Linked DNA regions of Homo sapiens. The gene in region 2 interacts genetically with the main gene of each other region. Each region holds a gene or a part of one and is shown on either strand. Other genes may lie near its edges.

The links.
Region 1: changes in LARS2 (region 2) and TFB1M together harm fitness less than expected from each alone (positive genetic interaction), as found in Homo sapiens cells (one large-scale study listed by BioGRID).
Region 3: changes in LARS2 (region 2) and XIAP together harm fitness less than expected from each alone (positive genetic interaction), as found in Homo sapiens cells (one large-scale study listed by BioGRID).
Region 4: changes in LARS2 (region 2) and CSF1R together harm fitness less than expected from each alone (positive genetic interaction), as found in Homo sapiens cells (one large-scale study listed by BioGRID).
Region 5: changes in LARS2 (region 2) and PFKFB1 together harm fitness less than expected from each alone (positive genetic interaction), as found in Homo sapiens cells (one large-scale study listed by BioGRID).

Annotation. Positions count from the first base shown.
Region 1 is NC_000006.12:155,291,361-155,297,853, forward strand, and holds part of TFB1M (dimethyladenosine transferase 1, mitochondrial), read right to left. Parts: intron 5,745-6,493; coding exon 5,593-5,744; intron 1-5,592. UniProt on the Homo sapiens protein: Mitochondrial methyltransferase which uses S-adenosyl methionine to dimethylate two highly conserved adjacent adenosine residues (A1583 and A1584) within the loop of helix 45 at the 3-prime end of 12S rRNA, thereby regulating the assembly or stability of the small subunit of the mitochondrial ribosome.
Region 2 is NC_000003.12:45,392,705-45,399,197, reverse strand, and holds part of LARS2 (leucine--tRNA ligase, mitochondrial), read right to left. Parts: intron 4,766-6,493; 5' UTR 4,745-4,765; coding exon 4,511-4,744; intron 1-4,510.
Region 3 is NC_000023.11:123,864,768-123,871,260, reverse strand, and holds part of XIAP (E3 ubiquitin-protein ligase XIAP), read right to left. Parts: intron 1-6,493.
Region 4 is NC_000005.10:150,052,871-150,059,363, forward strand, and holds the end of CSF1R (macrophage colony-stimulating factor 1 receptor isoform a precursor), read right to left. Parts: intron 4,723-6,493; coding exon 4,634-4,722; intron 4,515-4,633; coding exon 4,417-4,514; intron 3,472-4,416; coding exon 3,349-3,471; intron 3,268-3,348; coding exon 3,156-3,267; intron 2,467-3,155; coding exon 2,367-2,466; intron 1,561-2,366; coding exon 1,452-1,560; intron 1,355-1,451; coding exon 1,199-1,354; 3' UTR 425-1,198; downstream 1-424. UniProt on the Homo sapiens protein: Tyrosine-protein kinase that acts as a cell-surface receptor for CSF1 and IL34 and plays an essential role in the regulation of survival, proliferation and differentiation of hematopoietic precursor cells, especially mononuclear phagocytes, such as macrophages and monocytes.
Region 5 is NC_000023.11:54,957,963-54,964,455, forward strand, and holds part of PFKFB1 (6-phosphofructo-2-kinase/fructose-2,6-bisphosphatase 1), read right to left. Parts: intron 5,421-6,493; coding exon 5,295-5,420; intron 3,019-5,294; coding exon of another isoform or gene 2,956-3,018; coding exon 2,862-2,955; intron 1,932-2,861; coding exon 1,865-1,931; intron 964-1,864; coding exon 889-963; intron 401-888; coding exon 344-400; intron 1-343. UniProt on the Homo sapiens protein: Synthesis and degradation of fructose 2,6-bisphosphate.

The DNA.
Region 1 (6,493 bases), on a different chromosome or scaffold from region 2:
ACATATCCAAAGGTTGAGAAAAACAACAAAGAAAACTCAGCATGGGCCCAATTCAAACCAACCCAAGAGAATTAGCAGGTTCATGAAGAGGAAATGACAAAGACCTTAAGAAAAGTGGTGATATCATCTCAGGGTTCCTAACAAACATGCAACGGTCCTACGTTTTTATGATGGGAAGTTCCAAGACTCCTGAGAGAAAGATTTTATGGCCAAATCATCTAAAGGAAAGTTTTCCAACCTTGGCATGACTGACATCTTGGGCTGATTAATGTTGGGTGGTTCTTCGCTGTGGGAGGCTCTGCTGTGCACTGAAGAATGCTTCCCAGCATCCCTAACCTTCTATCCACTAGAGACCAGAGCCCCCTCCCTGGTGTGACAACCAAAAACATGTCAGACATTGCCAAATGCCCCTGAGGAGCAGATAAGGCAAAAGTGCCCTTGTTGGAAATGATTCCCCTAAACAGAAACAAGGGTAAAAAGAGAGGGATAGATCTAAGAAATGAAATTCTTATGATACACTCAAATTATCTGAGAGGAAGGCATTTAAAGAATTAAGCTTATGTAGTAGTAGAGTCTATTGATTTCAAACAAATTCTGGCATTAAAAAGTTTTGTTCTGAAACAAGTATAAAGCTGAATAAGTCATAGGAAACAAGAGTTTGCATAAACAGGACAACAGGTGGAGCAGGACTGTCATTACTGAAATGGAAAGGAGATGAGCCTTAGATGCCCGGCCTGAAGAGGACTGGAGGCCCTTCTCAGGCTGCAGCAGAGGCAGGGGGCAGCTCAAACTGAGCCTAGAGGTCTCCTGGGCTCAGGGAGCCAGACCTGGAGATCTGGGAGGCCTCGGCAGGCAGAATTTGTGGGGCAGACTACCAGAGACATGGAAAACGCACACACGCGGTGCTCACACGTGTGCAGGAGCAGCGGGTGGGGGAGACAGGAACAGGAGAGGGAGAGAGAATGTGAGGCAGAGCTCCTGAGGTAGCAAAAGGGTCCCAAGGGTCCCCCAAGTCCCCTGCTGAGCACTGATCTGCAGGTGCCTGAGGCTTGGGAGCCTGAACTAGAACCAGGGGAAGGCAGGAGCAACTGGGGCTCACATGGCTCAAGAGGCCTTGTAACATGCAGGGCGTTGGGTGCCTTCCTCAGAAAGGGCATGATGTAGTACTGGGGCTCAACGAGCCCCAAATTAAAAGCTACCCTGGATCCACCAGAACAATAAAAGCCTCAAGCAATCTTATCTATGTGTCACAACAAACCCAACACTCAACCCAATACCACAAAATCCAGCCCTCATCAGCATTAAAAAAAATAAAACTCTCACAATACCTGATGTTTTGTCAGAAATTATCAGGCTTTCAAAGAAACAGAAAAATGCAACCTATAGCAAGAAGGGGAAATCAATCACTAAAAGAGTACAGAAATGATAGAGGTAATGAAATTAGCAGGCAAGGATCTTAAAACAGCTACTTATTTGTTCAATTTTTTGAGACAGGGTCTTGCTCTGCCGCCCAGGCTGGAGTGCAGTGACATGATCACGGCTCACTGTAATTTGATCTCCTGGGCTCAGGTGATCCTCCCACCTCAGCCTCCTGAGTAGTCGAGACCACAGGCATGCAGCACCGGACCTGGCTAATTTTTTATTTATTTTTTGTAGAGACAAGGTAACATAGGGAGCTATGTTACCCAGGCTGGTCTCGAACTCTGGGCTCAAGCAATCCTCCCACCTTAGCCTCCCAAAGTGTTGAGATTACAGGTGTGAGCCAGCACGCCTGGCCAAAACATCTACTTTAAATATCATACATACATACATACATAGAAAAATGCCAAGGAAGGCATGAATGTAATGAGGACAGAAAGAGAAGATCCAAAGACCCAAATGGAATTTAGAGATAATTTTTTTTCATAATAGTTAACCAAATATCCATGCATTTACTTAATTCTTTCCTTCACTGCTGATTTTTGATCTGACCATTATCAGATACTGCTAAGGTGTCTGCATCGGGCTTTCTAGTCTAGTAATTGCTCTGTCACGTGCTGCTTCTCATACTGCTTTAATTATTAAAGCTTCACCATACATTTTAGCATATGACAAGGAAGTCTTTTCTCATCACTCTCCCTTTTCAACATTTCTTATGTATTGTTGCAGGTCTATTCCTCCAGATGATCCTTAGAACTGCGTATTTCAAGATAAGTTCTTTGAGGATTATAATTAGATATACAGAATTCTTGGAAAAATCAGCTTCTTTAAAATAATCATTTTTCCTTCTGGGGCTATGATATTTTTCTGGATTTATCTCAGTGACCTTGAGATTCTCAGTTAGGTTTTGTAGTTATTTTTATATATGTCTCTCATTTTTTCTTAGGTTTTCAAAATAATTATTTATCTCCAAATAATATTTTTGTACTTCTCATTCCAATAATGGTATATTTCCCTTGATTCACTCCCTGTTATATTTAGTTTTCTATTTATTTATCATGAATTCAATCTTAAACTCTCCTGAGTTTTTGCAACTTTTTTTTGACTCTATGCAAACTTGACAGTAGTTTTATCAAATTCCCCTTTTAATTGGCTCCAATCTGGACTGGTTGTTCTTCCTGAGGACTCCTTTCTCTCTGTCCTGTAGGGAGCCCTCTGCTTCCTGGATTTCATGTCATTTTTTTCTTGATGTTTCTAATCAGACCAATGCTTATATGATGTATCTAACCAGACCAATGCTGACAGAGGTGCTGACAGGGATCAACGAGGGCTGACTTGTGAGTAAATGGAGCTAGGTTAGTTGGGACCCATATGTTAAAAATAGTAAAATTGCTTCTACTTCACTATACACAGAGATCAAACCCGAGTGGACTATAGATATAAATGTGAAAGGTAAACATAAAGCTTCTAGAAGATAACAGAAGAATATCTTCATGAACTCAAGATAAAAGTGTTTCCTCAACAAAACACAAAAAGCACTAGACATAAATTTAAAATTAAGAATGCTTGCTCTTCAAAAGACACCATAAAAAGAAAATAACAACATGCAATAGAGTAGAAGAAATGCTCAACACATTTAACTAAGGACTAGTATGAAGAGTATTAAAGAGTATGTGAGAACTCCTCCAGATCAGTAGGAAAAAGATAAGCAACCCAAAAGAAAGGTGAGCAAAAAGCATGCACTAAAAACAAGGAACTCAAAAAGGCCAGTAAACACACAATAGTGCCCCATTTTGCTACAAACCAGCAAGGACAAAAGAAAACACAATGACATTCCATTACCCTGAGATTAATAAAAATGTACAAGTCTGGCAATAGTGAGTACTGGCAAGAATATGGAGCAAAATGAACTCATACACACTGCTGGTGGGAATATAAACAGGCGTGATGATTTCAGAGATCAACTTAGCATTATCTATGCAGTGGTGAAGATTTGCAGTTCCACTCCCAGGTAAATACCCTAGAGAAATGTTGCCCATGTGCCCCAACTGACACAGTATGGGATGTTTACAACAGTTTTGTTTGTAAAAACAGAACGATGAAACTAATTCATGGTCCACCAACATGAGAATGAATAGATAAGGATCTTACACAGTCAAATAGTGGGTAGTATATATAGCTACCTAAATAAACTACAGTCATAAGCAACGTCAGTGAATCCTACAAAGAATGTTCAGGATAAAAACAATACATACTATATGAATACACATTATATAAACCCAGTTGTCAAAAGTGGACAAAACTGGGCTGGGCGCAGTGGCTCACGCCTGTAATCCCAGCACTTTGGGAGGCTGAGGCGGGTGGATCACGAGGTCAGGAGATGGAGACCATCCTGGCTAACATGGTGAAACCCCGTCTCTACTAAAAATACAAAAAATTAGCCGGGCGTGGTGGCGGGCGCCTGTAGTCCCAGCTACTCGGGAGGCTGAGGCAGGAGAATGGCGTGAACCCGGGAGACGGAGCTTGCAGTGAGCCAAGATCGTGCCACTGCACTCCAGCCTGGGTGACAGAGTGAGACTCTGTCCAAAAAAAAAAAAGGACAAAACTAAAGTGTATTCATCATAGGAATATAAATCTGTGTGATAAGACTATGCAAGGGAATAAATCCAAAATTCACAGTAGTGATCACCTTACTAGCATGGGATGGAAAGGAGATGCAATCAGAGTAAGGAATACAATGGGGTCTCAAAGGTACTAGTGATTTAATTACCCATGTTGGGGGTGGGGATTCAGGAGTTCCCTTTATTAAGTCATCCATGTACATGGGGATTCAGGAGTGCCCTTTATTAAGTCATCCATGTACATTATACAGTCATCCGTCAGTATCTGTGGGTTCCATATCCATGGATCCAACCAATCCCAGATCAAAAATATTCAGGGAATAAAAAAGGATGGTTGCATCTGTACTGAACATGTACAGATTTTTCCCTTATCATTATTCCTCAAATAATACAGTGTAACAACTATTTATAAAACATTTATACTGTCTTAGGTATTACAAATAATGTAGAGATGATTTAAAGTATATGGGATGATATGCACAGGTTATATGCAAATACTACACTGTTTGACATCAGGGACTTGAGCACTTGTAGATTTTGGTATTTGTGGGGGTTCTGGAATCAATCCCCTATGGATACCAAGGGATGGCTGTATACTCTTGTACTTATATGTCATAATAAAATTTTTTTAAAAAACCACTTAAGAGTCTGCACATCCGTCCTTATACCTTTGCAGCTCAAGCACCACCCCTGCTTACCCTGGAGGGTTTACTTTCTAGAGTGAACCCAGAACACTTCTGCCATGGGAATGCAGGCATAGCAGACTTCACTGAGGTGAGGGAGGAAGTACAATTTATATACTGAATAATGAGACCCTCAATCCCCTTCTCTTTCTCAGCTCCAAATTGATTATCACATTCTTCCCGCATGCCCCGCCGAGACAGAGTCTTGCTCTGTTACCCAAGCTGGAGTGCAGTGGCACGATCTTTGCTCACTGCAACCTCCGCCTCCCAGGTTCAAGCAATTCTCCTGGCTCAGCCTCCTGAGTAGCTGGGATTACAGGCACCCCCCACCACACCCAGCTAATTTTTTTTTTTTTTTTTTTTTTTTTGTATTTTTAGTAGAGACGGGGTTTCACCATGTTGGCCAGGCTGGTTTCAAACTCCTGACCTCGTGATCCGCCTGCCTCGGCCTCCCAAAGTGCTGGAATTACAGGCATGAGTCACCATGCCCGGCCAATTATCATATTCTTTAACTGCCATGCCATTAAGCCTAAAGGATCAATTTTAAGGTATCACGTGCCAATCCTGGGTATGGCCAACAGGGCATCACTTTTGTCTTTCTCCAGTGGCATCGATGGCTGTTGCATCCCTGTGTTTACCACACTACCTCCTTGGCTAACATACATCATTCATGTTTTCCCAGAAGCCCACAGCAGTTACATCTGTCATCATCATCAAAGTTTTAACTTTTGGCTGAGCTGCTGCTGGGTTCTTGTGTGTGTAATAAGATATTAACTTAGAAAACACAGACTGTGGTAAAAATGCAGTATTATTATTTTGCTTTGGAATTTGAACATGTGATAAAATAGTCACAAAATGTTAAAACTTACCTCTGCCACTTCCTTTTGAAAAGTCAAAGTCATCTGAGTTCTGCCATAAACAAAAGGTCCATCTCTACAGGAAATATTTTCAAGCCACTTGATAATCAGTGGAGTTGAAACACTAAAAGGCAGATTTCCAATAATATGTACATTTGGAGGATCTGGTGGCAGAGGAAAAAACAACCTGAAATGATTCCATCAATATATTCTGAATACAATTTCAGTGACGAGTAAAATCAGACTGGATATTAATAGCATCAAAGAAAAATATATAAATAGACATGGCTAAATTTTTTTTTTCACTTATTATTCAAAAGCAATGTTTTCTCACAATCTGCTTTGGATTATTGAGGAAAAAATTATACTTAATTACTGCTCAGTTACTCAGAGAAAAGTCCTTGAATTTCTGGCCTAGGAAATACAGGAAAAAGAGTTGGCTTGAGGAAAAAGAGAATTCATTTTGGACATGATGAGGTTAAAGTGCCTATGGAACACCTAGATGAAGCTGTCAGAGGTCAGATGCCCAGGAAGGGGGTACAGGCAGCATATAAAGATGTGAATGTCTGCAATACGTAGGTGGTAAGTGAAACCATAGGAATGGAGTAATCTGGCAAATTTGCCCAAAAAGAAAAACCCCAGAAACAACAATCTGTACAAAGTGGGTAGAAAAACAACCACCAGCTAAGAATAGTTAGAAAAAGTTCACAAATGTAAAAGGAAAAACAGGAGGGGCTGGTATCAGGGAGAAAAAGAGCAAGAGAAATCCTCCGGAAGACTATGGATTACAGTTAAATGAATTTGGGAGAACTCAGTCAGATAAGGTTTGAAACAGGTAATGAGGAAGGCATTGTGGTTCCAGTGTGGCTGGGCTGGGGCAGAAACCTGAAGACTGCATGCTAAGAACAGGAGG
Region 2 (6,493 bases):
TTGAAATGGGAAGGTAATGAGAAGATCCTTTTAAAAAGGGAGAAGGTTGTTGTTCTCCAGGGATGATAAATAAGCAGCCTCAGACCAGGGTTATATAACTCTCCAGCTTCCAAAGAAGCAGCTTCATCATGAGAAACATAGACAACTGTACATGTATCTGAACAGAAGGAACACAGGCCAATGAGTCCTTATTGGATCACTGACTTCTGGCATCTTAATTCTTCCCCTGGTAAAATGATGAATGTCGTCATGAGTGTGCACATGAATGGATAAGGCAAACAAAGATGGTAGTCCTTGAATTAACTCCTACTGGGGGGACCTACTGTTCATGGGGGGACCTACTGTTCAAGGGCAAGAACTGTGCTTTAGTCACCTCTTTCTCCACGTCTGCCCCCAGTGCCAGCAGGAGTTTCATAAAATGTTGGATAAATGTTCGTTGGCCTTTGTGCTCCAAAAGCCTGATAACTGGCCCCTATGGAGCACTTTTTACCCAGCAAACTTCACAAATCCTACCCAAGTAATAGGAGGGTTCCCCACACCCAAGTTTAAATCATCTCATGACAGGGTCAAGGGTGGAGGGGCTGGAGAGAAAGGAAGAGCAACAGGTAACTGGGTAACTGATTCTGTTTCGTCACTAAGGGTCAGAACTTCTGCTTTTATTTATTTCTGCCTTCTGTTTTTTCTTCCTGGCCTTATTCCCTTGCTAGAACTTTACTCCAGTTCTTTAAGAATTTGCTTCCCCTGAAGTAATGCAAACAAACACGAAACAGAATATTCATAACCCTTCTTTTATGTACATATGTGGGATGGGGTTTTTAAATATTGTTTGCTGAATGTTCGCATGACTGATAATACACATAAACCAAATATAATCAGTAGAGCAGAAGAAACCAGAAATCAGATTCTTGCCAAGGAGTTCGTAAACTTCTTTCAGCAAAGAAGTTAAACAAACCTTTAACGGAACCATTAGCACGTGGCAAAAAGAAACCCACAAAAACTAGAGTAGAACTTTTCTTTGTGCTGCCCATCCTCTAGAAATTACCAAGGAGTGTTAAGCTGCCTGAAGGAAGAGATGGGAAAAAGAGAACAATTAAGAAATCTGGATCATACACAAATTAGAAAATCATCTGGAACTGCTGAAATGACAACTACAATGGATTTATACAAACAGGATGGAAAGCAACACATTGGTCAGACACTTTAATTAGAAACTGCAGATTTATAACTCTTAGGAAAACCACAGAAATCTGAGAGAGGACCTGAGATTCAGGGGTTGGTGGGAACTCAGGAACTTAATAACTGTCCTTAAGAAAGTGAGTGGCAGATAACCTTCTCAGCTTATGAGCAAGTCGTCCAAGGAGGTACAAGACCCCATTCTTTTACTTAGTGCAGAATCAGAAGAAAACTATCCACTCAATTCATGCCTTACTCCTTACAATGAATTAGGCTTATGGCTTATTCTTCAGAAATTTTTAGGAATATGGGAAAATAGCTGTTAAGAGTTCTTTGGGAGCTAGGAAAACAGTAAAATCCTTGATCTAAGCTGTTTCTAGTTTTTCATTTGAAAGTTTTTACATAAAATTATTTTTATTATACTAATGTTTGTTATGTATTTAATTTACCAATCTTGCCCCAAACATTTTCCACCTGTAATTTCTTTACTAGCATCTCTTGTTTTACATTTGTTCAATAAAGATTAAATTAATAGCAAAATCAAATGAATAATTATATACTAGCTAAGCCAAAATCCAAATCTGAGTTCATAAAAGATACATAGAAAAGTATTGTTTTCTAAAGTCTTTAATATTCATGAAGATTTCTGTTTATTACAGAAAAGGTATTCAGCTTATTGCCTGTCCCTGCCTTTTGCTTTTCTGCATGAATTAAGTCATTTTCCTCTGTGACAATGAAATGAGTTCTATCATCTGGGGGTGGAAAAGAGAGAAGGAATGATGGGAGTTTCTGTTATAATTGAGCAAGAATCTGATTGAAAGGGAAATTTTCATAATTATATAAAAGTATAAGAATTTAAGCCTTTAAAAGAGATTAAGATTTAAATGATAGGGAAAGGATGGCTTTTATAAGTGGGTCCTATTATTTTTGTCAGCTTCTGACTTTAGAAGAAAGATGACTTCTGCCTCTTTATAGATCACGCTCTGAAGCTGTGGCTGAGCCTAGAGGGTGACAGAGTAAAAGGAGCACCTCAATAGGAATCCGGAGCCCCAGTTCTGGTCCTAGCTTTGTCACTAGCTGTGAGGCCTTGGGCAAATTCTTTTGCCTTCTGGGATCAGTTTGCTAACTGTAAATCAAAGGTGAGACAAAAGAAGGTTTCTGTGTGGAAAAGCATGAGCTCAGGAATCAAACACACATTTGATTTTGAATCCTGGCTCTGCCATGTCTTGGCAAATTACCTAAACCTTTTTCTGAGCCTCAGTTTTCTTACTCCAAAAATGAGGATAATAATACCTACCCGCTGGGTTGTTTCAGGATTAAATGAGATAATCAATTGAAAGACAGTGCCTGGCACATGGTTAAATGCTCATTAAATGCAAATTATTTTTTAAATGATAAATATGGTGATTTCAAGACATTCCATTTCAAAAAACTTATGTGAGTGGATTTCAAGTGAATCTGATACCAGAGTGAGATCGATTATAAATGCTTCAAAATCCATGAGCATTCCGTCATAGTCTCAGGTCCTGATAGACACACCACGTTCTGATCTTTGTGTATCTTTTATTTATGTACCACTTCAGTTTGTAAAATGCATTTTGTCACACATTTTCTCATTTGATTTTCAAAACAATTCTGTGAGATAAACAATGCAAGGAGCCCAGAATCCAAAACATTAAATGATGTGGCCTGGATCACACAGGTTTCCTGGGGCAGAGCCAGCATTGCAGCCCAGGCTCTGGCTCACTCACTGAGTGCTCACTCTGCTTTGCCATTCCTTGATTCAAACCCTGATAGGGGGCTGCCAGGGGATCACACACAATGCCCCTTATGCTATCTCCCCAATTGCTAAAACAATTTATTTTGATCCATTTGATATTTTAAAAAACTGTATGCTTAAGAAGAATGAGATGTCACAAAATCAGTAAGCTACAACATCAAAACATTTGGAAGTCAATAAATGATTATCTAAACCAAAAGGGAAAAAAAAGCTAATTTTACTGTCCTCACTCAGAATTAAACTGCTCCTTAAGAGTTTGTTTTCAAAATCTATTAAGTTACATTAGTCTGATGATGTTGACACAAGGGCTTTTCACTTCCTAACAAGGTAGAAGTCAAGCTTTCATTGTAAAATTATGTATTACATTCAAACCTTCCCTTTTTTTCATTTCATTTTACTTGTTACACACTACATCTTTTTCAATAGCAATTTTTCTTTCTAACCATTGCCCAAAATCATCTTTCAGTTTAACACAAATAGCTCTCCTCCCCTTACTCATTTTTCATAACCACCAATCTCACAGAAAGAATGAATGTGTTGACCGAATCAGGAGATGGGGAAAAGGCAAGTCTAGAGAGGTGTGGTCTTGTGCAGCTGTACTTATTCAGCTGCTTGCCTTGGGCCTAATCTCTTTATTAAACATAGAGGGTTTGTATTATTTGACTATAACTACTACAAAGAGATGATCAGAATTTAAAACTCCAATCAGATTCAAACATTTCATGTAACAATCACATCTCCCAGCTGTCATTTTGACCAGTATCAAGAGGTAAGGGTTAACACGTTCCAGACTGATTCCCAGCAAGCTGGCCTCCCAGAAAAGGAACAGAGAGCACTCTGTGGAAACTGGCTGCAGCCAAGTATTATGCTTCCACCATTAATTCAGGTAGAGTGCCGAGCTGGTGTACCTGGTGCAGAAGCCAAGGGTCCACTAACTCATGTAGCTGCTACCTCAAGGTTAGACCCTACCCCAGTTCACAACAGTGAAAGGGCTGGTGTGCCCCAAACCATGATGCTAAGGCAGCAGAACAGAGTTGGAGGCTACGATTGCCAGGGAAGGGGCAGTTACTTCTCAGAACATGTAGCCAGCGAGGAGCCCAGGTGCCTCTCCTGGAGTCTCAGATATGACCCTGCCAGATCCCTGTGTGCTGCCCCACCATGCAATGGACCACAAAGGACCCATCATCTGGTAGAGCTCCTATTTTGATGAGCTTCCCCAGTAAATGTTGCTCTAGAACACCTGGTTTGCTGCTGTCTGTCATACACCTCGTGCGCAATATTACTATGTGTGCATCCACCACATTGGAAACTCTTGTAAACACTACCTTTGTATCACCTCATTTATGCCTCCCAATCCATTTACCCCTCCCAATAGTGCAGGTGGGCACTATTATGATCACTCTCCATCTCAGATAAGAGAATTGAAGCACAGAGAAATTCAACAATTTGGTTCAAGGTCACATATTTAATATCTTATTTGAACCAGGTAGTCTAACCCCAGGGTCCAAACCTTCAACCCCTCTTCTCTACCCTCTTAGAATCTCTCAGAATACTCACATCAGCTTCTGAAATTTTGGAGGCCTGTTCTTTTATTCGTTGATGCCACCATTTCTCAACATCCTTTCTTGTCTGCAATGTATACTCTTTTGTCCACTTTCCCGTGGCACTGTAGATGCTTCTGGTACATCCGGGAATTACTCTCCTTTCCCACTTGATGACATCTGGCCCACCATTTAGCTGTCTTTTCAGAAGAGAGGCATAAAAACCCAATCTCTGCCAAACAGAAGCCATTCTTCAGAAGGTGAGAAGGCCCTGAAAAAGAGGGCAGAAAGCACACTATGAGCTGCCTCAAACCCTCCCCAGAGCTTATCTTTCCATTTGGCACAGTCCAGTGTTCTGGCCCTGTGCTTTCCTCTTACTTTTAATAATTTCTTTCCCTGAAAAGAATACTTTAGCAATTCAATTGAGCTAAACACAAACTTTTTAATAGAAAATATAAAGGGTCAGTAACCCCTAACATCAAAGATGCAAAAATCCTGTAGGAAAAAATGGAGACCATCAGCTGGCCAGCTCCTGCGCAACCTCACAAGTTGCATGGAAGGCATGGAGTGCCCTCCCTCCCCTCCCCATGGGCCAGCCCAGGGACTCTCCAGCAGGCTTCACTTCTTATGTCTTCAAGCCTCAGAAGAGCTCAAGCACATGCTGAGTTGGCGTTAGGCTCAAATATCAGAAGGGGTCTAAATACAGGCCTCCCAGGAGGGCCAGAAATTCTGAACTACTATTAGTAATTTTTATACATATTATGAGTTAAATATACCCTGTAGGCTGAACCAGAAAATAACCATTATTTAGAAGACTGTTAATTCATTTAGTTTCTCCTTCATTTACCAAATATTTATTTATTTATTTACTTACTTTTTAGAGACAGGGTCCTGCTCTTTCACTCAGGCTGGAGTGCAGTGGCATAATCATACCTCAGTGTAACCTCTGACTCCTGGGCTCAAGCGATCTACCTGCCTTAGCCTACCAAAGTGCTGGGATTACAGGCGTGAGCCACCACCAAATATTTAATGACTACCACTAGGCCCACACGTTGTTCTAAGTACTGGGAATATAGCAGTAAACACAAACAGAGTCCCTTCTTTCTTTCTCTGTTTTTTTTTCTTTTTTGAGACAGAGTCTCGCTCTATTGCCCAGGCTGAAGTGCAATGGCATGATCTTGGCTCACTGCAACCTCCACCTCCTGGGTTCAAGCAATTCTCCTGCCTCAGCCTCCTGAGTAGCTGGGATTATAGGCATGCACCAACATGCCCGGCTAATTTTCGTATTTTTAGTGGAGATGGGGTTTCACCATGTTGGCCAGGTTGGTGTCGAACTGCTGACCTCATGATCCACCCACCTTGGCCTCCCAAAGTGCTAGGATTATAGGCGTGAGCCACCACACCTGGCCCAGAGTCCCTTCTTTCGTAGCACTTATTACATACTAGCAGGGAAGCAGATAAGAAACAAACAATAAGGGAGGCAGATGAGAAACAAAAATATATAACATGTGGTCACGGTGAGTGCTATTTTTTGAAATACAACTCATAGGTTGGGGCCTACCAGGATATCCAGTTGTGATTCAAAATCCAATTTTAATGTTTCGTTGGCTTCTTCCACAGGTAAATACTGGAAATGACCTCACTGAAGAAGTTTCATGTTTTATTGCTATTCAAAGGGTTGAGGTGAGATTTTTATCAAATATTTAAGATATAAATACTAGACTAAATAGCCTAAACTTTCTCCTTCTGGCATAACAGCATTCAAGAAGTGCTACAGTGAAAAAACAGATGACAACAGATCTTTTCAAAACCAGAGAGAAATAAAGAAACCCGGCACTCTAAGCTGATGTTCTTTGATTCTCTCAAAATTCCACTTCTATCAGGATTTGGCCTGTTTCACAAAGGTACTAGAACACAAATGTTGCCAGGAAGGTCAATATAGGCTTATAACAGTGAGTTTCAAACTCACATAAGACAGCAACATAATGTGGGCATCTTA
Region 3 (6,493 bases), on a different chromosome or scaffold from region 2:
GACCAGGCTTGGTGGCTCATGGCCAGGTGTGGTGGCTCACACCTGTAATCCCAGCACTTTGGGAGGCTGAGGTGGGTGGATCACTTGGTCAGGAGTTCGAGACCACCCTGGCCAACATGGTGAAACCCGGCCCCTACTAAAAATACAAAAATTAGCTGGGCATGGTGGCATATGCCTGTAATCCCAGCTACCCGGTAGGCTGAGGCAGGAGAATCACTTGAACCTGGGAGGCGGAGGTTGCATTGAGCCCAGATCGTGCCAATGTACTCCAGCAGCCTGGCTGACAGAGTGAAACTCCGACTCCCTCACACACACACACGCACACACAAAAAGAGATGGGGTCTTACTATGTTGCTCAAGCTGGTCTTGAACTCCTGGCCTCAAGTGATCTTCTCACCTCAGAGTGAAGTATTCTATTCCATGATCATGTTAGGATCTCAAGCAAGTACTTAAACAACTTTTTTTTTTCTTCTGGGACAGGGTCTTGCTCTATCGCCCAGACTGGAGTGCAGTGTCACAATCTTGGCTCACTGCAACCCCTGCCTTGCGGTTTCAAGCAATCCTACCACCTCAGCCTCCTGAGGAGCTGGACTCCAGGCAGGCGACAGCACACTCAGCTAATTTTTAAATTTTTTTTTGTAGAGACAAGGTCTCACTATATTGCCCAGGCTGATCAAACAAGTTATGGATAAGAGCCCACATCTTTTCTCTTTCTTCAGTAAAAATATTTAACTCTATCTGAAAGCCACAGTGCTATCTATATTCAAACATTTAGTACGTTTCTCTTCTGTCTAGGTTTTAATTTTTTTAAATGACACAAAGTAAAGGAAACTGTGCTACAAACCAAATTTAAACGATACAACATATTTCATGAGTGTCCGCATGTACCCAAATACTATCTACAAACTAATTTTCATTTTCCTTCATCCCATCATTTTAGCTACAAGTAAGTACTTCTCTACTAAACATGCTGAATTTAAACTAAAAATTTTCAATCTTGGCTGGGCATGGTGGCTTAAGCCTGTAATCCCAGCACTTTGGGAGGTTGAGGTGGGCAGACCACCTGAGGTCAGGAGTTCGAGACCAGCCTCGCCAAAATGGCAAAACCCTGTCTCTACTAAAAATACAAAAAAATTAGCTGGGCGTGGTGGCGCGTGCCTGTAGTCCCAGCTACTAAGGAGGCTGAGGCACGAGAATCGCTTGAACCTGGGCGGCAGAGGTTGCAGTGAGCTGAGATTGCGCCACTGCACTCCAGCCTGAGCGACAGAGCGAGACTCCGTCTCAATTAAAAAAAAAAATCAATCCTCTTTGGTTTAATGTAAGGTCAAAATTTAAGCATGGGCTTGTGTGATTCTATAGCTCATCTTCTCTTCTTTCACGATGTTACCTTTGATAATAACTAACATATGTAATGTGCTTTACAATTTAGAATGTTTTCATATATGGAATCTAATTTAACCTACATAATATATCATAGGCCTCATCTGAAATATGAGGAAACAGTAGTTCTGACTGTTACTCATCAAAGGTCATGCACCCAGTGATTATGACCAATATAGGTCTAAGGAAATTACTACAAGGATTACTGGCAGAAGGGACAGTCCAATGAGGTAGCAGAAAATGTTAGGCTTCCTTCCCTTTCAAGGCCTAAAAAATTAGCTAGAACCATAGAAAGGTTAAGTCACATGGTAATATATGCTGAGATGTCTGTGTTTTTTTTTTCTTTTCTTTATTTTTGAGATGGAGTCTCACTCTGTCATCCAGGCTGGAGTACAGTGGCATGATCTCAGCTCACTGCAACCTCCACCTCCCAGGCTCAAGTAATTTTCCTGCCTCAGCCTCCTAAGTAGCTGGGATTGCAGAGGCATGACCCAGCTTTTTTTTTTTTTTTTTTTTTTGTATTTTTTTAGTAGAGATGGGGTTTTGCTCTGTTGGTCAGGCTGGTCTTGAACTCCTGACCTCAAGTGATCCACCTGCCTCGGCCACCCAAAGTGCTGGGATTTCAGGTGTGAGCCACTGCGCCCAGCCAGATGTCTGTATTTCTGTATTTAAGGTGAATAAGATGATTACAGAAATAAGAATAAAATTTCAAACCATAATATTTTATAAGTACCAGGGAATGCACAATGGCAGCAGCCTTGTCCGGTTTAAGAAATCAGCTTTAATCCACTTGGTTCAACATCTGACCATCTGAGATCAAGCTATTCTCAGTCTGTACAGGTAAACGTGACTTTTCACTATGACCCATATCCTCGAAAATACATAAAACTATATCATAACAAGGTGAATCACATGTATCCATAACAAAGACTGGGTACCAAATCATACCAAAATCAAATCCCAAAATGTATCAAACAGCAGAGCTACAAATGTATCACAATTTAAAACAATAAAAGCCCATGCCAAGTCCTGCAAAATGGACATAAGTATGTTTTTATCATATAAAGGATAACCTATTATTAACCACATACAGAGCAGATAAAATATATAATCCATAAATTTGGCCTCAAATTCCTGTTTTTGTTTTTTGAGATAGGGTCTTGCTCTGTCCCCCAAGCTGGAATGGGGTGCCCTGATCTTGACTCACTGCAACCTCCACCTCCTGGGCTCAAGTGATCCTCCCACCTCAGCCTCCAGAGTAGCTGGGATTACAGGTGCACGCACAACCATGCCCAGTTAATTTTTCTATTTTTAGTAGAGATAGCATTTTACCATGTTGCCCAGGCTGGTCTTGAACTCCTGGACTCAAGGGATCTCCCTGACTTGGCCTCCCAAAGTGCTGGGATTAAAGGCATGAGCCACCATGCCTGGCCTGGGATTGTTATGTGGAATTTTTTTCCTTGACAAAATCTCAGATAATCAGGCTTAAAAACTATTATAATGGGTTTTGAATCGTTGGAATCAACTAGTCCTTAAGCCCAGCCACCCTGGGTTTTTTGTTTGTTTGTTTGCTTGTTTGTTTGTTTTGAGACAGGGCCTCACTCTTGTCACTCAGGCTAGAATGCAGTGGTGCCCTCATGGCTCACTGCCACCTTGACCTCCCGGGCTCAAGCGATCTTCACAGGCGCGTGCCATCACATCCAGCTAATTTTTTTATTATTGGTAGAGACGGGGTCTCACGATGTTGCCCAGGCTGGTCTCAAACAATCCTCCCACCTCAGCCTCCCAAAGTGCTGGGCTTACAGGTATGAGTCACCATGCCTGACCCTGTTACTTTACAGATGAAGAAAGTGCAGTATAAAATAATACACTGGATAAATAAAAAATGTATTTTGAAAGACTTCAGGCTGGGCGCAGTGGCTCATGCCTGTAATCCCAGGACTTTGGGAGGCCAAGGCAGGTGGATGACCTGAGGTCAGGAGTTCGAGACCAGCCTGGCCAACATGGTAAAACACTATCTCTACTAAAAATAGAAAAATTAACTGGGCATGGTTGTGCGTGCGCCTGTAATCCCAGCTACTTGGGAGGCTGAGGCAGGAGAATCACTTAAACCCAGGAGGCAGAGGTTGCAGTGAGCTGAGATTGCACCAATGCGCTCCAGCCTGGGCAACATGAGCAAAACTCCGTCTCAAAAAAAAAAAAAAAAAAAGGCCAGGTACGGGGGCTCACACCTGTAATCCCAATACTTTGGGAGGCCAAGGCGGGCGGATCACAAGGTCAGGAGTTCAAGACTAGCCTGGCCAACATGGGGAAACCATGCCTCCACTAAAAATACAAAAATTAGCCGGGCGTGGTAGCACATGTCTATAATCCTAGCTACTCAGGAGGCTCAGGCAGGAGAATCACTTGAACCCAGGAGGCGGAGATGCAGTGAGCTGAGATTGTGCCACTGCACTCCAGCCTGGGGGACAGAGTGAGACTCTGTCTAAAAAACCAAACCAAACCAAAAAAAAAAAAAAGACTGCTGGGCGCAGTGGCTCACACTTGTAATCCCAGCACTTTGGGAGGCTGAGGCGGGCTAATCACGAGGTCAGGAGATGGAGACCATGGTGAAACCCCGTCTCTACTAAAAATACAAAAACATTAGCCAGGCGTGGTGGCGGGCACCTGTAGTCCCAGCTACTTAGAGAGGCTGAGGTAGGAGAATGGCATGAACCCAGGAGGCGGAGGTTGCAGTGAGCTGAGATCGCACCACTGCACTCCAGCCTGGGCGACAGAGCGAGACTCCGTCTCAAAAAAAAAAACAGAAATGTTAACTATAGAATGTTGAAGGGGGGGGGGGGATTAAAACAACCTGTAGACAATATGATCGTCATTATTCTATTTCATAAATTTTCTATAATAAACACATATCTCTGGCCAGGCACGGTGGTTCATGCCTGGAATCCCAGCACATTGGGAGGCCGAGGCGGGCAGATCACATGAGGTCAGGAGCAAGACTCCGTCTCAGAAAAATAAATAAATACATAAAATAAAATAAGCCAGGTGTGGTAGCACACCTGTAGTCCCAGCTACTTGGGAGGCTGAGGCAGAAGAATCGCTTGAACCTGGGAGGCGGAGGTTCAGTGAGCCAAGATCTCACCACTGCACTCCAGCCTGGGTGACAGAGCTAGACTCTGTCTGAAAAATATATATATTATATATGTAATATATTTTACATATTATATTGTGTTATATATTATATATATTTTACATATATTGTATTATATATTATATATAATATATTATACATGTAATATATTATATACTATATTATATATATCATACATTATTATATACATATTATATATTTTGATATTATATATGATATATCATATATTATATATTAATCATATATAATATATTGTATATAATATAATTTATATCATATATATTATATATCATGTATAATATATATTATATAATATATATAGAAACACATATTTCTTTTATAACTTAAAATACTCAAAGGCCGGCACAGTGGCTCATGCCTGTAATCCTGGCACTTTGGGAGGCCAAGGCGGGCAGATCACATGAGGTCAGGAGTTCAAGACCAGCCTGGGCAACATGGTGAAATCCTGTCTCTACTTAAAATACAAAAAAGGCTGGGTGTGGTGGCTCACACCTGTAATCCCAGCACTTTGGGAGGCTGAGGTGGGTGGATCACGAGGTCAGGAGTTCGAGGCCAACCTGGTTAACATGGTGAAACCCCGTCTCTACTAAAAATACAAAAATTAGCCAGTTGTGGTGGCGTGCGCCTGTAATCCCAGCTACTCGGGAGGCTGAGGCAGGAGAATTGCCTGAACCCAGGAGGCGGAGTCTGCAGTGAACAGAGATCGCAGCCATTGCACTCCAGCTCTGGGCGACAGAGCAAGACTCTGTCTCCGAGGGGAAAAAAAGAGATACCAAAAAAAAAAAAATTAGCCAGGTGTGGTAGCACACGCCTGTAATCCCAGCTACTTGGGAGGCTGAGTCACCAGAATTACTTGAACCCAGGAGGTGGAGGTTGCAGTGAGCTGGGATCATGCACTGAACTCCAGCCTGGGTGACACAGCAAGACAATGTCTCAAAAACAAATAAATAAAATAAAATATTCAAAATACCCTTTTATTTTTTTTGAGTCGGAGTCTCGCTCTGTAGCTCAGGCTGGAGTGCAGTGGCGCAATCTCGGCTCACTGCAAGGTCCGCCTCCCGGGTTCACACCATTCTCCTGCCTCAGCCTCCCAAGTAGCTGGGACTACAGGCGCCTGCCACCACGCCCAGCTAATTTTTTGTATTTTTTTTTTTTTTTAGCAGAGAGGGGTGCCAGGATGGTCTAGATCTCCTGACCTCGTGATCCGCCCGCCTCAGTCTCCCAAAGTGCTGGGATTACAGGCGTGAGCCACCACGCCCGGCCTTAAAATACCCTTTTTATGTTTTGAATTCAACACCTAAAATAACATATCAAAAATGTGAACATGTAAAGAAAGATGGGGTCATTGACATGCACAATCCCACAGCTAATTGGAAACAAAGTCAATAACCTGTACTGTGGTACCCAACGTAGGGCTCTTTCCAAACACTGTAGCACATGACCTCTAAGATACAGAAACAGTATTTGTTAAATTCTAAAGTATTTTTTATCTTATCACTACTGTTTGTCTCTTCATATCTACTCACACAATGTCCTTTAATAGTGCTAACAGGTTACATTTTATAAAACTATTACCAGATTATCTCACAGAGATAAAGCTTGAGAATTGACAGCTCATGATAATCTCCCAGCCTCAAAAGAACAATGGAAAAACAAACAAACACACAAAAGCAAAATAAAAACAGACGAACATAAAAAAGCAAAAAAAAAAAAAAAAGAAGAAAGGCGGCCTGGTGTGATGGCTCGCGCCTGTAATCCCAGCACTTTAGGAGGCCAACGCAGGCAGATCACGAGGTCAGGAGAATGCGACCATCCTGGCTAACATGGTGAAACCCTGTCTTTACTAAAACACACACACACACACACACGGTGAAACCCTGTCTTTACTAAAACACACACACACACACACACACACACACACACACACACACACACACACAC
Region 4 (6,493 bases), on a different chromosome or scaffold from region 2:
GCCAATATCCTCTCTGGGCCTGGGACCCTCTCCACAGAGGGGATGTGGTCCCTGGTCATGACATAACCTAGCAGCAGTAGGAAAAACTCCCTTCTATGAAGGGGAAGCAGACTGGGCCATAAGGAAACAGCAGGACTGGCTCAAGTGCCCAAGGTTTGTTTAGGGCCTGGGAATTGGCCATGTGTTAATTTATTGAGTGGAGTAGGTGGCTTTTTTTCCCTCCCTCTTCCCCCAACAAGAATAAAGTTTATTAAATTATCTGGTTTTGGTGTAGCAGGAGTCAATTCCGTGCACATCGTATGGGGCACAGTGTGGTCAAGCTCCACAGCTGTGAGCTCGTCACTTCATGTGAAGGAGGGAAGGAAAGAAAGACGTTCCAGGGAATTTGCAGGTACTCATGTGGCACAAAGAACCAGAGGCTGACTGCATTAATGCTGTTAGTTTAATGTGGACAGAGACATCCCACGGCGTGACTGTTAGTTAGGATGAGTCAGCTTGGGGGAGTTTGTGCTTCCTGCTTGGTGTGGCCAGCCACATGCCAAGGTCCCCTGCCTTCTAGCCCAGAATGACGGGACTGGGCAGAACACCCCCAACTTTTAGCTGCCACTTGGCTCATTACAGCAGTACCAGTATGGGGGTGGGAGGGGTGAGGCTGTGGAGTGAAGGCGGCGTATAGGGCAGAGACTAAGAGGTCCTGTGAGATTCTTAGAGGAGCCATCCTGCTCCAAGGGGCCTGAGCTGAGTGTGGTCTGTGAGCATCTGCTGCTCCTCTCAGAGAGGGAGATCTCACTCTCTGCCAGTCTGTCTAGCCCCAAAGAGCCTGGTTTTCTCAGTATCAGTGTAGCTCCTGGGGACTTCATAGGCATAAAGTCAGTCCATTTCCATGAAGATAAGGGGATTAGGAAAGAAGGTTCTACTAGTTGGCATAGCAAACACGAGGCCAACACCATGAGAACAGTAGGGGAGGGGGGGGTGAGGGCTCAGCCCCCAGCCCCTGACTGGCAGTGATGGCCCATGCTCAGGAAGTGGGATCCTCTGACCTCCCCTGAATCCCTCACCTTCCCAAGTTTCAGAGCTGGGCCGAGCTGTTGAGTGAAATGACCGAAGGCAGAGTTTGTATGTTCTCCCCGTGTCGCCCCATCCATGGAGGAGTTGAAGTTTGTGGGAGGGGAGAGTGGTACTCCCTGTCGTCAACTCCTCAGCAGAACTGATAGTTGTTGGGCTGCAGCAAGGGCTGGGCGATATCCCCTTGCTCGCAGCAGGTCAGGTGCTCACTAGAGCTCTCCTCCTCCAGCTCACTGCTGCTGCTGCCGCTGCCACCGCTTCTGCTGCTGCTCGGCAGATTGGTATAGTCCTGAGGGTGGGAGGGACCAGAAACTGTCAGTCCAGATCCATCAGGCCCAGCCCAACGTGCTTTACCGGCCACCCACCCCAAGCCTCACCCCACTCACCCGCTCTCTCCTGTCCTCTTGGGCCTGCTCCTGAAGGAAGGAGCAGATCTGCTGGAAGGTGGGTCTGTGGGTGGGCTCCAAGGCCCAGCAGGCCTGCATGATGCTGTATCTGGGAGATAGGACAGAGGATGCCCATGGGCAGCTCCCTAGGGTCCAGGGGCCATTAACACACACCCCTAGAGAGACCTACCCAGCAGAGGTCCCCAAACCCAGTCAAAGTAAGTTTAGTATAAAACCTATGCCAAGTCCTTGGCATGCTTTACCATTTAATCCTCACAGTAACCCTTGCAGAAGGGTACTCTCATCACCCTCATTCTGACAGATGAGGCCATTTTGGTATCCTCAGGGTAACTGTAATAACGATCTCTTAAAAGTCTGTTTAGGGACAGGTGCAGTGGCTCATTCCTGTAATCCCAACACTTTGGGAGGTTGATGCAGGAGGATTGCATAAGGCCAGGAGTTCCAGACCAGCCTGGACAACATAGTGAGATCCCATCTCTACTAAAAAATTTTTTAAAAATAGCTGGGCTTGGTGGTGCACACCTGTAGTCCCAGCTGTTTGGGAGGCTGAGGCCAAAGGATTGCTTGAGCCCTGAAGATTGAGGCTGCAGTGAGCTATGATTGCACACATCACTGCGCTCCAGCCCGGGCTACAGAGCAAGATGCTGTCTCAAAAAAAAAAAAAAAAAAAAAGGAAAAGTGGTCGGTTAGGACCAGCCCTAGTGAACAGCTGCTTCTCTGAGAACATCCCCCATAGCTTGAACTCAAAAGGGGCTTGTTGTGTCCACTATGGGAGAGATAAAGTCTGACCCTGGAACATTTTGGACAGGGAAAGATCAGGGCCACACGGCCTTCCATCCCTTTCCAGCGAAAGCCTGGGGTGTCCTTTTCCCTCCCTGGGATCCCTTCGCTTACATATTCTTTGGGGCAAATGCAGGCTGGGCCATTTGGTATCCATCCTTCACCAGTTTATAGAACTTGCTGTTCACCAGGATGCCAGGGTAGGGATTCAGCCCTGCAAAGGCCAAGATCAGGTAAGAGGCCATGCCCATTGTCTTCTCCCCATTCCCGCACACCCACACACATCTTAGACTGGGTTTAAAGGGTCCCACTTGACAACACTGCAACAGCAGCTACTCTTACCCGGTGCTTCCTGTGTGCCAGCCAGTGTGTGGCAGGCTTAGGCTTTAGGAAGGTGTGAGCCTCTATCCAGGCCTTATCACACCAAACATTCTTGCACAGGCTTTGGAATCAGACCAAAGCTTCAGCTGTGTATCGTTAAAGTGTGGACAGTCAGGTGGTTATGAGGGTATAGGAGCAGCGTATTTAAGAACTGAGTACAAGTCCTTGTGCCTAGTCCTCGGGAAATAGCAGTTCTTTCTACTAGAGCCTAGTAGTAGAGAGCTGCATCTTCAAGGGTCTGTAGATTTCAGACAAAGGAGGGAAACAGTGACAAAGGAGGGTAACAGGTAACAGCAACTGAGCAGAGACAAACGAGGGAAGAGCCAGAAAGGAGCGCCTGTCAGGGGCAGAGGGTCTGCCGAGTCCCGCAGGAGCCACGATGCTGGGTTTCGAGAGCCCTTGCCCATTCCTGCACTCTCACCAACCCTCGCTGTGTCCTGGGCACCAAACAGCTTTGTCCACCAGTGGGGCAACCAGAGGAGCCAGCCCCAGGCTCTGCCTGGAGTGGGCCCAGTGGCTCACCAAGTGAGAAGATCTCCCAGAGGAGGATGCCATAGGACCAGACGTCGCTCTGAACCGTGTAGACACAGTCAAAGATGCTCTCTGGGGCCATCCACTTCACAGGCAGGCGGGCCTGGGATGACAGTCCCCAGTTATTTTGGGCCCCGACTCTTCACCCCCTCCCCAGCCTGGCCCAAGCCCTCCCAGCACTTACATTGCCCTTGACAATGTAGTTGGAGTCATTCATGATGTCCCTAGCCAGCCCGAAGTCCCCAATCTTGGCCACATGACCATTGGTCAACAGCACGTTACGCGCTGCCACGTCCCGGTGGATGCACTGAGGGAAAGCACTGCAGGGTTAGTCTTGGGCCTTCTCCTACCTGAGCCTGAGGTGAGGAGGATGGCAGGGAGGGCCCCACATGGCTTTGGAGTCCCTGCTGGAGTGAACAACAGTTTTGGTCCTTTACCACAAACCCTTGTCTATACCTTCTACCAGGGCCCAGGATCTGAGAATGTGTATCGTGATCTGATCATTTAATGCTTAGAAACCCCCATTACCCTGAGCAGCCATGGCCCTTCTCACCCTTTGTCCTCTGACTGGTCTGCTCAGGCCCCAGAAGCGAAGGGCTTCCGTGCAGAGAGCAGTCTCCAAACCCTACCGTTACTTCTGATCATAGCAGCTGCTATCTGCCAGGCCCTTCCCTAAACTCTGCACACATTGAACCCTTTTTCTTTTCAACAATCGTTATGCCCATTTTTATAGGTGTAGAAACTGAGGCACAGAATTTAAATAGTTGCTTAAAGTCACGGAGCAGGTGGCAGAGCCAACAATCAAACCACTGACTCCCGAATCTGTTCTAAGGAAGATGGCAAGAGCTCCCATTCCCTGGCACTTCTTCCTAGGCCGAGCGCACTTTATACGTTATCTAATATCCCCAAAATTCTGAGGAAGCTTCCGTTATCATCCCCACCAGACCGCGTGCTTTATGAGCAGAGACAACTGTTGTCTCTCATACACTATTTAGTAAAAACGAATGAAGAAAGCCTGGTACCCTTCCTCATCTTCACGCTGGGGACACAGGTGCCCAGCCCCAGAGCTCCAGCCCTGGGCACAGCTTTCTCCCACTCATCCTTGCAGCTGCTGCCCAAATGACTCTCTCATACTCTGTCTCCTCCCCTACCCCCTCACAGGCTCCCGTTTCCTCCTCCCCATCGTCACTCATCCAGCCTCCCCGGAGCACAGACCTGGGTGGCTATGAGCCAGGGCCAGGTTCCTACTCACATTCTTGGAAGCGAGGAAGGCCATGCCCTGGGCTACTTGGCTGGAGAAGTGAAGCAGGTCCCGGAGCTCCAGGGGCCGTCCATCCTCCTTGTCCAGGTCTAGGGTGGGAAGAGGCGTCAGGGCAGCCCTGCCACACTCCCCACCCCTCACCCCAGCAGCCCCTTCTCCTTTTCCCTTGTTATCAAGCAAATGGGGCCTGGCCCTGGGACCTCCTCACCTTGCTCAGAGAAGGAGTCATTTGAAGAAGTGGAGACAGGCCTCATCTCCACATAGGTGTCCACACCCTGGCTGGAGAAGCCACTGTCCCTACATAGGAGAGAGGGTTGGGGGGCAGAGGTCACTCATCATCACTGCACTGCTCAGCTCAGGCCTTGACCACCCACCACCCCATGGTCAACTGGAACCTCCCTTTCTGATAAGAAACCCTCCTGCCACACTCCATCTGAGTGAGCATTGGTCTCTGCTCGGCTGTCCCCGGTGAGGGAGCTTACAACCCATTCTGGTTTTGGGCAGCTCTGCCTGTGAGAAAGTTCTTCACTGTTCCTAATGCCAATCTACCCCTGAGATTTTCCTCCTAGCCCCTGCTCTACCCTCAAGGGCCACAGAGAAGTTGGAGTCCTCTTCCCCATAACAGCCCTACTAGAATTGGGGCATATTCTAGGGCCCCTTGTGCCCTCTCTTCTCTGGACAGTGCCTCACACCCCTGGCTTCACATTAAAATCACTTCGGGAGCTTTTAGGATCAGGCTAATTACTAATACTTCAGAAACTCTAGGGACAAAACAGTCATTCACAGATTTAAATCTCCCCAGGTGATCACAAAGTACAGCCTAAGCTGAGGCCCACTGGTCTAGAGCAGTGCTGCTTACGCTGCAACTCATGTGCAGATAAATCACCCCGGGAATCTCTGCAATGCAGATTTTGAATCAGCAGGCCTGGGTGGATGGGCCTGAGGTGGTGCACTTCCAACAGTCCTCAAGAGATGCCTATGAGAGCACACTTGGGGTAGAGAATTTGAGAAGCACTACTGTAGACTGAAGCACTACTGCTCCTAACGTTCCAGCCAGATAGGATTTCTCTCTCCCTCCTGTCCCCTCTGCGCTAGAGATGTGTACCTTGACAATGTCCATATTCTAGTGTTCCCAGAAGGAGAAACCGAAAAAACCTTCCGCTCCCTTGTAGAAACTATGCTTCCGTTAACAGCCTGGAATCCTTTGACAGAGTTGGTTTACAGGCCATTTGCCCTCGAAATTACCCACTCTGGGAATACTTTCCCCATCTGCGTATTTGAAGATGGAAGCTAATACTTTCCTTTGGTGCTCATTTTGATCTGATCTTCAGAGGCCTAGTGTGTGCCACCCTCATAGAAGTGTCAGGGAATCAGAAGAGGAAGTGATGCTGCCAGGCCCCCATTTTTAAGGCCCTGGGTGAAGAGATGGCCTCCTTCTCTTTTGCCTCCCCAGGCGTGGCAGCTGACAGTATCTAGGATGAGGGCGCAGTGTACACCCTTCTTGTTCTGATCCTGTCCTGACCCCACAAGCCCCTGAGACAGAGACCTCCAGGACAGCAGTGTGGCTTGGGTGACTCCTGGACTGGAAGTCAAGAGAGCAGGATTCTAGTCCAGGCTCCACCTCTAACCCTGACTCATGTGTGACATGAATCTCCCCACTTCCTCTCTTTGGTTCCCCATGTGGCTCTGTCTGTTGGATGGCTCTGTTCTGGATGGCTTCCAGGAATCACAGCAACAGGACAACAGAGCCATCTCTCTTTTTTTTTGAGACGGAGTTTCATTCTTGTTGCCCAGGCTGGAGTGCAATGGTGTGATCTCAGCTCACAGCAACCTCTGCCTCCTGGGTTCAAGCAATTCTCCCGCCTCAGCCTCCCGAGTAGCTGGGATTATAGGCATGCGCCACCACGCCCGGCTAATTTTGTATATTTAATAGAGACGGGGTTTCACCTTGTTGGTAAGGCTGGTCTCGAACTCCCATCCTCAGGTGATCTGCCCGCCTCAGCCTCCCAAAGTGCTGGGATTACAGGCATGAGCCACTGCACCCGGCCACATCTGCCCATCTCTTACT
Region 5 (6,493 bases), on a different chromosome or scaffold from region 2:
TGTATGAATTTTTGACAATTCATTTATGCTTTTGGAACCTCAGTTTCCTCTCTCTAACATGGAAATAATCTCTAATATGCAGTTTTGTTGTGAAAATTAATGACAGTCAAGTTTGATATCTGGAGCATACAAAGGGCACTATATATGTTGGCTTCATTAAAATTAATAGAGTCATTGTAAGCCAGGATGGTTAGGGAATGCTTCCTATGAAAACTCAGAGAAGATCAGGGAGGAATACTTTCTTTAATCTCATGGAGTTGCCTTAGGCATAATCTCACCTCTGCCTTAGGCATGATCTAAGCCTAAGGCAGAGCAAAGTGGAAAAGTAACTGGTGGTCCTTACCCTGATGTTTTCTGCAATTATGCCAGGGTCATTACAAATGGACTCAATGAAAAACACCTATAAAAGAAACAGAAAAGAGATTTCCAGCAGGAAATTATGTTTGGTAGGAGCTGAACATAGCTTTACTCCTTTTCAATGGCTCTAAGTCATCTCCAGGGGCATCTCTGACAACATAATGCTCTCATACAGTGGTACTTCCAGGCTTCTGAGTTTCATGAGGCAAATTGGCTCTAAACTGAATGACCCCAGACTGTTGTTTTATATCTTTACTGGGTTTAGGTCTTATATAAGTTTTTTGTAGTGACTCTCTCCACTCTTTCCCCATAGCCAGCCTGTCTGCAGTCAACTTCCATTGCCTAATGTGGCACCCCTCCTTTCTTGTTCTGCTTTGCTGCTTCTGACTATATCCTGGAAAGTTAGAGAACCAAATTAAAATGTTGAGCTTATGGTTGCGGATTTGGCCGCTCTGAGTCCCCTGGTTTGCCTTTCTTTGGGGTTTGTGCTGGAGAAATAGGCTCTAGATAAGAGTTGGAGTGTTACCATACCTTGTAACCATGTTCTTTTGCAAACTGCAGGATCAGTGACCGTCGTTCTCTGGTAGTGTTGGTGGCATCAAAAACCTAGAGGCAGGTAATGAGATTGGCTTACTCTGAATCTGGTGCTAACAGAACACCTACTCTTTGCCCATCCCTGTGCTAAGTGGAGGGCTTCCATATGGAGGTAGAACTTGAACAAGGTCTTGAAGGATAGGAAGGATTCATGATTGGCTTATGACAATTTCACAAGCACATATTGGGCCCTTATGGTCTGTCCAGAAATGTATGCTACCCTGTGAGTGTAATAAGGCAAGAGGAAATTGTGGGTTTTTATTAGGGTCATTTTATAGGTGAGGTAACTGAGGCCTAGAAGAAGTTGGCTTGACCAAAGTCACCGAGAGTTGCTGACAGAGCAGAGCTAGAACTGGTTCTCTCAATTCCTAGCTGAAGCTTCTTCCTTCCTTATCACTTTAGAAGTCCTCTAAAACAGGAAACAATTCCCTAACCTCAGCACCTGAGATTGGACCATTTGCATATTTGAGAATCTCCTCCCCTTTTATAATTTGCAAATCCTAGCCAAAATATTGACTAGATATTTAGGTAAGTCTCTATAACTCAAAACTGTTTGTACTGCAGTTTTAAATTCTAATATAGTCCTGCTGAATTATTGGGGGTAGACTGGTAGTGTATAGTGGTTAAGAGCGGGGATTCTGAAGCTATGCAACCTGGATTCCACTTCTGGCCCTGCCAGGTATACGTTGTACCACCTTGGGAAATTATTTAATGTCTCTGTGAACCATTCTTCTGGGCTCTGAATTGGGGCATAATAACAACACCTATCTCAAGGGGGGAGCATAAAATTAAATTATTAATATATGCAAATACTCAGAACATAATGTTCTGTACACATTGGTAAATGTTCAGTACATATTAGCTAATTCCCTTCCCAGTAGTTACCCAAGGAAAAAATAAAAAATTTCTTTACCGCAACATGACCTTCCTCATGGCTGAGATAGTTGTGAACATCCTTCAGGGCTGCCAGGGCGCACTGCCTGAAATAGACCAGGAAAGAAAAAGAGGCAACCCTTATCCCCCAGGATGGATTTCTCTCTCATTGTCTGCAGTATCTTCTGTACCATCTCTCATGTCTTAGACTAACTTATCATGTATTGAACATCTACACAGGGTGCCCTACGCTTTAGGCACCGTGCTAAGCACAGAGGGGTCAAACAGTTGAAAGTGGCTATGTGTGCACAGCTTACACGGTTTACGGGCAGGTATAAAGTGACACAATCAGGAAAAGCTGAGCAATGACAGAAGCCATAATATTAAGGGCTCCAACCCTTGAGCTAATGGAACTCAAGCTGAACTGTTTTATGGACCCAAGTAGAGCATGTGGTCTGTGAAGTAAAAGGCATTCCTGGCATGGGTAACACACAGGCATGACAGTGGCAATGTATTTATGCTTTCAGCAAAAATCTCTTTAGTGATTACTCACTGCCAGGTTCTATAATGAAGGCATAAGGCACAGGCTCTATTCTGCAAGTACTCAGAGTCTTGTAGTGCAGAGAGACCTTGAGGTTGAACTGATGAGACTACAGAAACTAGAGTAGGCCAAGGTATTGAGATTCATGCCTCAAATGCTAAGCTGAGAAGTTTCTACTCTCTCCTGTCAGAAGTAGAAGACCATTAAAGGTTCTTGATAAGTGGATGGTTATGACCAGAAACAGGATTTGGGCAGGAAAATGGAAGGGCTGTTCCAACTACTGTTTGAGAGTCTAGAGGGCCTCCTTTCTGGTCCAGATTATTCTTGACCAGAAACAGGATTTGGGCAGGAAAATGGAAGGGCTGTTCCAACTACTGTTTGAGAGTCTAGAGGGCCTCCTTTCTGGTCCAGATTATTCTGCCCTACTCCCCCAATATCTGAACAAGGGCCTTTCAGCCATGAGACAGCACAGGTTCCTAAAATATTGGGTACTTACTTCCTGATTTGCAGGGCTTCCATGTTGTCTGGAAGAAAGAATTCATAGTTCTTGTAGCTCACTGCCTCTCGTCGATACTGGCCTAAATTAAACACTGAAAGCAGGGAGTGCCAGTGAAGAGGTTGGGAAGATCCCAGTGGCCAAAAAAATGTCCTTGCTGGGAGGGACCTCAGAGGTAGAAGAAGGTATAATTTGTAGCTACAAAATGTGCTTTTAAAACTTCAAATTATGGCTACCAGTTTATTTATTCCTCACAACAGCCCTGCAAAGTAGAGATCACTATTACCATTTTATAAATGAGGAAACTGAAAGTTCAGAGATAGGAAATAACTTACACAGTGTAAGTTATTTCCTATCTGTGGATATCTGAGATCAAACCCAGGTCTATTTAGCTCCATAGCTGGTGGTCTTTCCATTATTCTACTTTATCATAAATGCCAATCCTTAAAATGCCCTACTCCAGTGGAAAGATGAAGAAATGGAGATCTAGGGAGTAAAATTAATCACCAAGGGTCAAACAGTGAGTGAGCTGGTGACAGATATAGACTGGACCTCCTGACTTCTAGTCCAAAGTTATTTTATTTTTCTATATTATGAGGAAGATTCTAAATCTAAATCTCTAGGCCATACTTTCCCACTTGCAATGATGAAAAACTAGAGAGGAGGGAAGGAAAGGAGGAGAAAGAAGATAAGCAGCCAAAGAGTTAATATTTCATTCACTCATCTAACAAATACTTTTTGACTCCTACTCTGTGAATCAGGATATGAGCTCTGGGTCTCAGGGATTAGCCCGATCTTCATGATGGGGCCTTTAAGGCACTCACAGTCCAACAGGTAAGACAGTGAGTAAACCAGTAAATGGAGAGCTCCCACAGAGTTTGTTCAATGCTCTGACAAAGACAATATTAAGCCACGGAAGACAGTGAGAGAGAAGGAAAGACTAATTGTACTTGGAATGATCTGAGAAGGTTTCACCACTTGAACCAGGCTTTTTAGGGTAGGCACCTTTTACAGGCAGATATGGGCAGCGGGAGTCAGGAACAAAGGCATTCCAGGTAGAGGAACAGCTTGAGCAAGAGTATGGCATTGGCAGAAGGAAGAGCATGTTTGGAGGATGGTGAGTCATCCACTATAGCTGAGGCCTGAGATGCTGGAAGGGGCCAATTGTGGAGGGCCTTGAACAACAGGGTAAGGAGCTTGGATTTAAACCTGCAGGCCAAGGGGACCTTTGGAGGCCACAGGCATGTTCAGCTTTGTGCTTTGAAATATGACTCTGGAGGCCTTTGAGAGAATTGAGTGAAGAAGATAGAAAGCAGGGGAATCAGAACCCATGATGGGGCCCTTAAGGCAGAAACCCGTCTGCCAGTGTCCCATGTGCCTCTACACTCAGCAGATTTTCCTGAGAGCTTGCAGTCCTCCATGAGAGCTGCTCCTTCTCTCCTTCCCTTCTGCCAATGTCTTATTCCTCCCACAAGACTCAGCTCAAACATATCCTATGTAGGAAGCTTTCCTTGCCTTCCAGTTGGCATATCCCTTTGTGATTTCATACAGCGCCCTGCTCCTGCTCTAGAATTCCTAGATGATATGAGGTATTCTTATACATCCCAGCTAGACTCAGAACTCCTCAAGGACAGGGTGTGAGTCTCAACCAGTTTTGTATCCCCACTGCCTAGCAGGAGTTTGGGCACATGGTAAACCATCGGGAAACTCCTCACCAGTGAATTAGATAAAGAGAACATAGATGAACAGAAAGAAGAAATGGGAAAAAGAAACAAAAATTGGGGAGAGGAAGGAAGAGGGGGAGAGATAGAGTGAAGTGGGGCAGAGAGACAGGATGTTGAGATTAACAAGGAAAAGAAGGAGACAAAAAGAATGAAGAAAAGGAGACTATAGGGCTAACATGGGATTCTTTTCTCTTCCAATCAGTAGAATCATGCATTAGACTTGGCACAGTGAATATCAGGCTTAGAATCAAATAGACCTGGGTTCATATCTTGGTTCTGTAACTGGATATATGCCTTTAGACAAGGCACTTCACTCCTTGGGCCTTAATTTCCTCAGCTATGAAATGGTGAAGAAGTGGTAATGCTAATAAAAGTAGTAATATTGGTATGGCAATAATAGTAATGGCAATAAAAATAATATGTTACTCACAGGATTGTTTTGAGGTCATGGAACTTCTTGAGAGAAGACATTTAATCTTAATACTAGTTTTCCTATGCTTAGCACCTAGAGTGGTGTTGGGCACAAAGTATGTGCTCAAGAAGTTATAAAATGTATAAGAATGTAGTAATAGTGGTAGCAGTAGTCCTAATGCTGGTAATAATAATGATGGGGCATTTCTGGTATTGAGGACTTTGGCCTTCTACCTAAGTAAGGTTTTCAGCCAGTAGCTTTTATGGGGTTGTTGAACAAAGGCTTTCAGAGACATACCTTTAGTTGGTGTTCCTATCCAGTTGAGATATCGTGTGAGCTTTGTGGAGATATAGGTCTTGCCTCGAGCTGGTAAACCCACCATGATCACCATTGTGGGGGAATTGGTAAACTGGGGTATGGATGCTGAAAAATAAACAGACCCTCAAAAGCTTATCCTCAGATTCATAGGCTCTTCTGGTATTAGGCCAGAAATGTAGAGTTGTAAAGAACATGTCTCCCACCATTACAGTAACGAAAAAACCGGGAAAGTGAAAATTAAGAACTTCTCTCAGACTCATCAGAAAACTGAGGTTGCAGTACCACAAACCTGTAGAAACAACCATCTTCAAGGGAGCCACAGGAACAGGCATTTGCTTACCTGGTGCAGATACCACTGAACAACATACAAACTTTATAAGAGGATTCAGCTAAAAATTATAATGAATTGCTAAAGGCTGGTTATGGGCTAGTGTGAGAATGTGAAGCCTGTAGGGGCTGCAGACATAGGCAATTTTGCACCCCTTTGCAGAGTTTTCCTCCAGGAACTGCCCCAGGTGCTGACAAGAAAGACTGAGAAGAATCCTGAGAAAGATATCCTGTAGTTCTGCTCGGGCAGAACAGTATAATAGCTGTTGCTGAAATTCTGCACAGACTAGTTTCCCTATATTCTCTATGGAGCAAAAGCCTTACTATTCAGGGAAAAGGCAACAAAAACCAGCTTGAAAGTACTGGGAGAAACTCACTGCAGCTGGCAGAGCAGAATGGCCAACATCACTGAAACTCTGCCCATACCAATCTACCTTATCTTCCCAAAGGGAAAAAAGTCTTAGTCCTCAGAAGAAAGGGCAACAGAAACTGAGGGCACTGGTGAAAACTCACTACAGCTGGGGGAGAAAATTGAAAAAAAAAAAAGTCCTAACCCAGGAGGGGCAGGAAAATGTGCTAAGCCCACTTGGGTTAGAACATAGGAGGAGGGGCAGGAACACTTGTGAAGGTCATACCTCCAACACCCAGGGTAAGCCTGCCTAAGACTGAGACTTAATCAGCATAGCATAGAATGTCCCAGGTCCCCATTCCCCCACTACCAGGCTAAAAAGCATCAGTAAAAATAACAGTGGAATACATCTATAAGAGATTTAAGAGATATATTATCTCCAGGGTGTAGCACAAAGGGCGAACAAAGCAAGGAATAAAAACAATGTCTGAAGAGAAAAGCA